2 separate regions of the Homo sapiens genome follow, and region 1 is linked to region 2. The links come from fine-mapping of genetic effects on gene expression. A gene starts in region 2. The other region holds a variant in brackets. All regions are shown on one strand. Distances are from middle to middle. Region 1 overlaps EPS8 (EGFR pathway substrate 8, signaling adaptor). Region 2 holds the start of STRAP (serine/threonine kinase receptor associated protein).

Region 1 (4,402 bases), 160 kb before region 2:
ATTGCACTCCAGCCTGGGTGACAGCACGAGACTCCATCTCAAAAAAAAAGAAAGAAAGAAAGAAAAAAGAAATGAAATGGACACTTCTTGGCATGAATAAATATAAATAGCAGGACCAATATTATACGTTCTTTCCAGAAGTTATTTAGAAGAGTGAGACCATACTTAAATTAAGTGTATAGATGGCATTAGTAGTCTAAGTTAGGAAAATATTGATTTGAGAAAAATGAACCGCAAAATTATGTAACAGGGAATATAAATGAACAAAATGGTAGTTTTGCCTTAAATTGGCAATGTTTAGGAATGCATTAAGGGAAACACCACACAAACTTATTTGATTATGGATTTTAAATGTCACTTTCAACCTAGAAATCACTGTACAGCTCCAATAAGACATGATCTTATTTGGCAATTTCAGTTAAAAAGACAGCAAGAAACAAAAAAATTGGTGGAAAAAGTGATTTCTCATTTCCTTTCATGTCCTATAACTAAAGATTAGATGTAAAGTGTTAAGACCTCAGCACAAGGAAACCAAAAGCTTGTGTTTGTGCACCAAGTCTGCCACTTAATAGCTCTATAACCTTTGGTGAGTAACTTAACCTCTCTCAGCCTCTGCTTCCTCACCTGTAAAATGAGACCAATGAGACCAATTTGTACAGTCTCATTCAGATCCAATACCCCAGAACATTTTCCTAATTCAAATTTAAAAGGAGAAAACCTATTTAATTAGATTTTGGCTAAAATACAGTAACTAGCAGTTTTACACTTTTCAACATAAAATTTCTGAAAAAAGAAATAACCAAATAGTCACAAAACCTAATGACGAATAAGGAAAAATTATGAGTCACTATGAGGACATCTGCAAATTCACCTTACAAATTATTGAATAACAATATTTATAGAGCCTCCCATTTCTGCTGAAAATTTCCCATTTAAATACAGACTCTGCTGAAACACAATAGGTACAAAGAATTGAAGCAGGGAAAATGAAAGCTTTTGGCATGTAGTATCAATATTTCCCATAATTATGAAGATTTTACTTAGACTTTCCTCATTTCACCTGGCTCAAATGGAACTCCCATCCCCTGTAATTAGCTTGATGAGTGCATATCAAGAGTCTCATATTCTACCAAATCAGCTAGCTGGACATGTTGGTGAATGTATATCAAAAGAATTGTCTAGAAGGTCCTTGTAAAACGCATTTTTAAACCTACAATGTCCTCAAAGCCTGTCCTTTCCACAAAAAGTTAAACTCTAAACAAAACGACAGGACTACTTCAGCTTATTAAAATCATGAGTGCTTCCGGGTTCTTAAGTGCCATTTAGAGAAAAAAAAAGGCATTTCTTACAGAAGTATCAATCCTTTCTGGAGTATTTTTACCTTAACTCTGAAATACTGTCAGGAAATTATCACATTAGCTAGGTAGCAAGACTTAACCTCTCCTATCTATAATCATGTGCTATATAGCAATGGGAAGGAAGCGAGGAAGGAAGGAAGAGAAAGGGGCAAATCAGTAAATACAAAAAAGGAACTGTGAATGCTGATAAGGTGTCCTCTTATCAAAAAATCAGGGGAAATGCCCAAGTTTAATTCCAAAGCATGTACCTATTGAAGCACTGCAAAACATCATCATATATATGTATATATAAACATACATATATATATATATACACACATACATACATACTTACATATAAGTTAATTACTGAGCAAGCAGCCTTGACAAGTCAGGAAGCATTACAATACACAGAATAAAAATGCCTGTTTTCTGAGTAGCAGTTTAGAAAAAGCTGTGCAAACAGTTGTTAAAATGATATAGCTTATGTCATCCTTTAAAAGTAAAACCTGCAATTAAATTTGCACATCAAATGATCCTTGAAGCTTGTATGTTACCAATAAATAGGAGTGATAGAAAGGGCTTGAAATCAGACAAGCCGTGTCAGTGACACACAACAGAAATGCAGTCATATAAAGAGAAGATATTACAGCAACACATGATCTGAAGCTGAATGCCACAGTGATACACTCACATTAAATTGCCAGAGGACATATCAGTTTTTAAAA[C/T]GGTTTAATTTCTTTGAATATCATTGGACTAGAGTTTGCCCAGGTGGCAGAATTTAGCTGGGGCCTTTGGCTGAAAATTGTTAGTGCAGTGAATGTTTACCCTGGGTGGGCAAAATATTAAGGATCCCTTTCAAGTTTATTTTCAATTGATAAAATGCTTATTCTCCTAACCAAGTCTTAATCTTTATTTAGATTATAGTTTAAGACCTCTTAATTGTAATTCTAAAAATGGTATCTAATCCCCTTCTATTTTTGACATGGGGCTATGAAAAACAGATTAAACCAACTACGTCAAGAGGTGGTATGTTATGGGCAAAAAGCCATGGATTTGAAATCTAAACCTTAATTATTTTCCTGGCTATACAATTTAGTGTTATGTGACAAACAAATCATCAGTATAGGCAGTAGAATGTAGTTGTAAAGAATTCAGGTTCATGTACAAAACAGACTCATATCCCAACTCCATACTTTAAGGCTATACAACTTTGGCCACATTACTAAATCTGTTTGCTTATCTATAAAATGAAAATAATAGTATCTTCTTCACATATTATTTTCAAATAATATATGAAAAGAGTATAGCATAGTACCTGATTAATTATAAGTAATAAATGGTAGATTTAAAAAATCACATCTGAGTTTTCTAAGTAATTCAAATATTTCCCCCTTGCTAGATAACACTTGGGATCAGATGAGGTAACATAAATTGTAACCTCTTTTTTTAAGAGATAAGGTCTTCCTATGTTGCCTAGGCTACACTTGAACCCCTGGGCTACAGCAATCCTTCTGCCTCAGCCTCCTGAGTAGCTGGGATTACAGATGTGCCATCATGCCCAACAATAACTCTTCTTTACTCCAGGGTGACTAAGAACATAATGGTCACACTACTGATGTAAGCAAAGCATACTGTAAAAGAGGTCCATTGACAGTCACATTCTGCTAAGTGTTACAAATAATCATACACTTAGTGATCAACAAATGGGGTGTTCCTTAAATCTGGTCGTGTTATTTACTTAGAACGCTTCAGTGTTGTCTGAATGCAGTCATAGTAAAATCAAAGCCTCTTACTGTCACCTAAAAGCCCTTTTAGGATCTGTCCCCTGCCTCACTTTTCAGTTTTGTCTCTTTCCTTCTTCTATGACCTCCTTGCTCACTTTGCCCCAGCTGTGGACTCCCTGGGCATGTTGCTCCCTCTGCCTGAAACTCAAGTTCTCCATTTCTTAGCAATTCTCATCCTTTAAGCCTGTTTATCTACCACTTGCTCAGAGAAGCACACCCAGATATTTAAAGTGCTGTATGAGATTATCTATCCCCAAACCTAACCCACCCTCTTGCATTAATCTCTGTGTGCTTTTATTTTTTATTTTCTCCCTACCACTTACTACAGTTGGTGATGTTGCATGTCATTTATTTTTGCCCTGTCTGTCCCATTAGAATACATACTTCTTGAGGGCAAGGGCCAGCCTTTGTTTACCACTGTATCCCCAGCACTTAGTACAATAGTTGGCACATAATAGGTGAAGGCAATCAAAAATATGTCCACATATACTCAGAGTGAAAAGAAAGCAAGAAAATACTATAACACAAATACCACAACAGAGTAACTCAAACTTTTCCCATTCACAATCTGTAGGAAACCCACCCATGTCTGTAATATACAGTCATATGCCATTCCCCACTCACAAAAATAAACCTAACACACACCAAATAGATTTTTTAATTGACAAATAAAACCAAATAGATTTTTTTAACTCCAGTAGCTCATCTCCAAACTGTTTTCCTAGATGTAATGAGGGAAAGAAAGCAATACTGGAAAAACTACATAATACTCAGCTAAAAGAACGAGGTTTGTGGGGCTCAACAAAAAAGTAATCGTCTGGAAGCAGCCGGTTCTGTGAACCAATAGATAAAAAATTTCATCTCCAAACCCCCAGGCAGCTCTCCAGTTAGAAGGCACACTGCTCTACATCTCAGCCCATCAGTTTTCCTTCTTTGGAATAGTACATTTTATCCTCCATTTCTTGTGAAAGACAACAATCTTGTTTGCCTTTGTCTTGCGCATCAAGTTAAAAGGATTTTCCTGAAAACTTAAAAGTAATAAAAGCACACTTTACTACAACAAATAGAAATAAGAAGTGCCTACAGGATTTCTAGTGTTTCATTCAGCACCAAATATCAGACTTTTTAAAATTTTTATTATATATTATAAATATTATTTCTGATCATAAAAGTAAATCCATGGCAGAAAGTTAGAACATACAAAACTATTTTAAGAACAAAAATCATGAGTCATCCTGCTAGCCAGAGACAAATGCTTTCACATTTTATAAATTTTTC
Region 2 (4,402 bases):
TAATATTAAATTGACCTTGAAGCCTACCCAATTGGTCATAATACACAATACTCTTAGAACTCAGAATCCAAATGAGCAGGAAATAATACATTCTTTAGAGCCAAGTATGTACCATAACTTACCAATTATATTCTTATCTACACACAATGAGCAATAAATGAACATGTATCAGTATCTGACCAGTTGTGTCATTTTGAGTGGGTCTTTTATTTACCTCCATCAGTAATGCAACAATCTATTTAATCAGTAAACAGTCATGCTGAGTATTCACTAAATGCCATTCACTTTTCTGGCACTAGAGTACAAATGACAAAGCCATAACCATTGCCATTAAGGAGTTCATAAATGTGTGAGTGGTGCGTATGTGTGAGACAAAAGGGAGAGGATGGCACAAAGGAGGAGTCGAACAAGATAAAATGAAAAACATATATAGTAAGTGCTTTACCGTAAGTGAATGAACGAGAGTACTAAGGAAAAAGAATGGAGACGTATTTCAAGTTCTCACGTTGTTTGACTCGAATCTTGTAGACGGTGTTTGCTGCAAAAAGATGAAGAAAACATTCACAGACATTTATGTTGATTACATATTTATTGCTATGTGCCCAGACGTTTTGACCTTGGGGATAAAGTAGCAAAGAAAACACAAAAATCTCTGTTGTATTGGGTTTACATTCTATCAATAAAGATACAACTTGCCCAGAGAAAAGCCCTCTCCTGGTTAGGAAACAGTATCAACAATTAACAGCTCTGGTGGTTTCACAGAGCCACAGTGGGCTGCCTGCTGCAGACAATATCAGAGTTTGTTTATATTTAAATATTATTTTAATATTTCTATTTTTGTCCATGTATTATAATGCACATCTATGTAATTTGCAAATCATCACTCATATATACATCATATCAAAAGGTGTAAAAGTTTTTGATAGAATTCAGCATTCATTCGCTTATAAAATGAGTGAAGGCTCACTTTACGGATGAGAGTATTTCATCAAAAAAATTGGGGATCTACGACTCTAGAGTTCTCCGAAGTCCACCAAGGAAAAAGTAACTTGAATTTAATCGCATTTAAAACTATATAGTATCCACTCCTAAAACATTAGCAACATAGGAAAACTTACACAGCGGAAGAAATGACTGGGGATTTTTTTTTTTTTTTTAATACATGGTCTCGCTCTGTTGCCCAGGCTGGAGTGCGGTGGCGCGAGCACCGCTTACTGCGGTGTCGACCTCTCGGGCTCGAGTTATCCTCCCACCTCAGCCTTCCAAGTAGGTGGGACCACAGGCACCACCACTCCAAGCCCGTATATGGTTTTTAAATAAGACAAATTGCAAAAAACGTTGCCAGACAGCGTTCGCTGGTTTGGGCCGTCACTGGGTATGGCTCGTGTCCGTCTAGATATTCAGAGGCCGAGCACAGTCCTCAGTAGGGCTGCTCGGCAGGTACACAGCTGACGCTGGTCCTTGGACTTATGGGAGTGGGAACAACTTTCAACTCGGCCGCGGACCAGGAAGGCGTTCTGACCCGCTAGAGCTCGGGGACAGGGACCCCATCCCGGTGCCTAGAGCGTCTCCCTTAGTCGGCGTGGGCCAGCGCCAGTTACCTCACGAGCACTGAACTAGCGCCTGCGCCCTTCTATACTTCTCGCTCTTTCTTCAAGTCACTTCTACCCGGCGAGCCCGCCCTCCCGCCAATCGTCATTTCCGGCGGGTGCTCTGCGTCATTTACGTCGTCACTTCCTGCCGATGCCGGTGTGGACGCTGTGAATCGTGGCTGGCCCGGTTCTCCGCTTCTCCCCATCCCCTACTTTCCTCCCTCCCTCCCTTTCCCTCCCTCGTCGACTGTTGCTTGCTGGTCGCAGACTCCCTGACCCCTCCCTCACCCCTCCCTAACCTCGGTGCCACCGGATTGCCCTTCTTTTCCTGTTGCCCAGCCCAGCCCTAGTGTCAGGGCGGGGGCCTGGAGCAGCCCGAGGCACTGCAGCAGAAGAGAGAAAAGACAACGACGACCCTCAGCTCGCCAGTCCGGTCGCTGGCTTCGCCGCCGCCATGGCAATGAGACAGACGCCGCTCACCTGCTCTGGCCACACGCGACCCGTGGTTGATTTGGCCTTCAGTGGCATCACGCCTTATGGGTATTTCTTAATCAGCGCTTGCAAAGGTGAGCAAGGCCGCAATCCTGGTCCTCGACGGCTGGGACTGGGCTGAAAGGGATCGGGACCCGCACGCTCCAGTGCCGAAGCGGTGGTGTGGTGAGGGGGGAGGGGGCGATATTAACATCTGAGATGAGAGCCAACACTGGTCCGGTGGAGAAAGGAGTGTGTTAGGGAATCCGCAGCTGGAGCCGAGAGGACGCTTTTGTAGAAACTATTACCTCCAACTAAGACCTCTCTCCTTATTTTATTTTTATTGCTATTTTTGAAGGAGCTGGTCAGCATTTGCCTAGACTCTCGGGACAACACGGTAAATAGCTTTCAAGGATTTGGGGAAAGGAGAAATTAGGCCAGGCCGTGCAATACCTTACAAAGACGTTCGCTCTTGTCTCACTGGATATTCCTTTGTGGTATTAGCCTCATTTTTCAAATGGGAAACTGAGATTCAGGCTAAGATGTCTGTCCAAAATAAGACTAAAATCTAGATTGTTTTGACGCAGATCAGTATTCCCAGCCAATTACAGATGCTTTTCAGAGAGAATGATCTGTTCAGCTCTTCAGTTAATTTATTACTGCACATTCCTTAGTGCCTTCAGTGGGTGGTGGTAGTTAAATAGCTGAAACAATTTTTCCACTTTGTCATTGAACATCATTGTATATTTACATTTGAATCTTAGACTTTAAGTAATCTGAACTTATAAATTACATGTTTTAAAAAATATTTTCTAGATGGTAAACCTATGCTACGCCAGGGAGATACAGGAGACTGGATTGGAACATTTTTGGGTCATAAAGGTGCTGTTTGGGGTGCAACACTGAATAAGGATGCCACCAAAGCAGCTACAGCAGCTGCAGATTTCACAGCGTAAGTGTAGCCAAGATGGCTAACTTTGGTGTTCTCTGTAGCTTGTGTCCTGAAATAATCAAAAACTTCAGTGTCAGATATTCATAAAATTCTGACTCACTGGCTGCCATACAGAACGCATGTTTGATCCCACCAAAATTCCATCGTGGTCCATCGTGGTCCTGTGTGCTTCTTTGTCTTCAGTGGTTCTCAAAATTTTCAGAGGCCTAAATGACTTATTCCGTATATTTTGATTGAGACTCAGGAATCTGCATTAACAAACGCACCAGATAATGAATGTTGATCTCCTTTACGAATGCTGCTCTGTGTGTACTCCTTAGTGATATCCTACATTGATGGCCCTAGGTTTTTATTTCAATCCCGGTTTTTGTTAACTGGCTTTAGGCATCATTAAAACTCATTGTGTCAAAAACAAACAAACAAAAAAACAACAAAAAAACAAAACTCAGCTGCTCGTCATTTCCTAAGTTTTTAAAGGTTGAAATCTAAAGCATTCTTGATTTTCCCTTATATCTAGATTATCATCATCTTTTTTGATTCTGCCAGCGGGATGTCTCCTGACTCCAATGTTCCTTCATGTAGTAACTGTGGCTGCCTTAGTTCAGGATCATTTTTAACTTTCAGTAGTTTCTTTTCCTCCTATTCATTTTCCATATTGTTGCCAGTTGTCTTCCTAAAAACATACTTGATCATGTCACTTCTCTACTAATGATCTTCCTGTCTTCCCTTTGCCATTTTAGTAGTTCATGACCTTTGATGTACATTAGAATATCTGGAGAGCTTTTCAAATATTCAAATGGTATGAGTCCCAGAAATTCGGATTTTTAAAACTTTTTTTTTTTTTTACTTTTTTACTATATATTTATATTTTATACTTTTTACTACATTTAAAAATATTTTTTAATACTTTTTACTATACAGACAGTATCTAGCTATGTTGTCCAGGCTGTCTTAAACTCTTGGCCTCCATGCCTCAGCCTCTCAAAGAGCTGGGGTTACGGGGGTGAACTACTGTGCCTGGTACAGAAATTCTGGTTTGATTGGTCTGGGGATGGAGTACTGGTCATACTGATTATTGGTGTTTTTTTATTTTTCTTTCTTCCTTTTCTTTCCTGATGTGCAGTCATAGAATTGCTGACCTAAAGGACACATTTCAATTGTTGGCCCTTTACAGTTTGCTTCATCCTAGTTCATCAGCATCATCCTCTGCCATTGCACACCATAAACCTACAATCTAATTATACTAATCTTATTGTTGCCAGAATATACCTTACCTGTTCTGACTTTTGGCGGTTAATTATGTTATTAAACTGACTTGCAGTGGCCCTCGTTGCCTTTTTGGGAATGTATCATATTTTATAAATCTTGTTATCTCCAGTTCCTACTT

Evidence for each region. PIP is the estimated chance that this variant, and not a neighbour inherited with it, causes the effect.
Region 1: its variant is the best candidate, but not a certain one, in a credible set for the expression of STRAP in whole blood (INTERVAL, PIP 0.66).

The regions. Positions count from the first base shown.
Region 1 is chr12:15,717,547-15,721,948 of GRCh38, forward strand. All of the region lies in intron 1 of EPS8 (EGFR pathway substrate 8, signaling adaptor), which reads right to left. Among named protein-coding and RNA genes, the nearest start is that of EPS8, 70 kb to the right of the region's middle. The variant C/T (reference allele first, on the strand shown) is at 2,066.
Region 2 is chr12:15,880,662-15,885,063 of GRCh38, forward strand. It overlaps STRAP (serine/threonine kinase receptor associated protein), which reads left to right and starts at 1,726. Exons shown (of 10, transcript NM_007178.4): 1 at 1,726-2,158; 2 at 2,880-3,015. The coding sequence starts at 2,047. LOC102724146 (a long non-coding RNA gene) reads right to left here and starts at 1,637. Exons shown (of 6, transcript XR_007063230.1): 1 at 1,119-1,637; 2 at 446-538. RefSeq lists enhancers at 1,144-1,373, 1,684-1,803.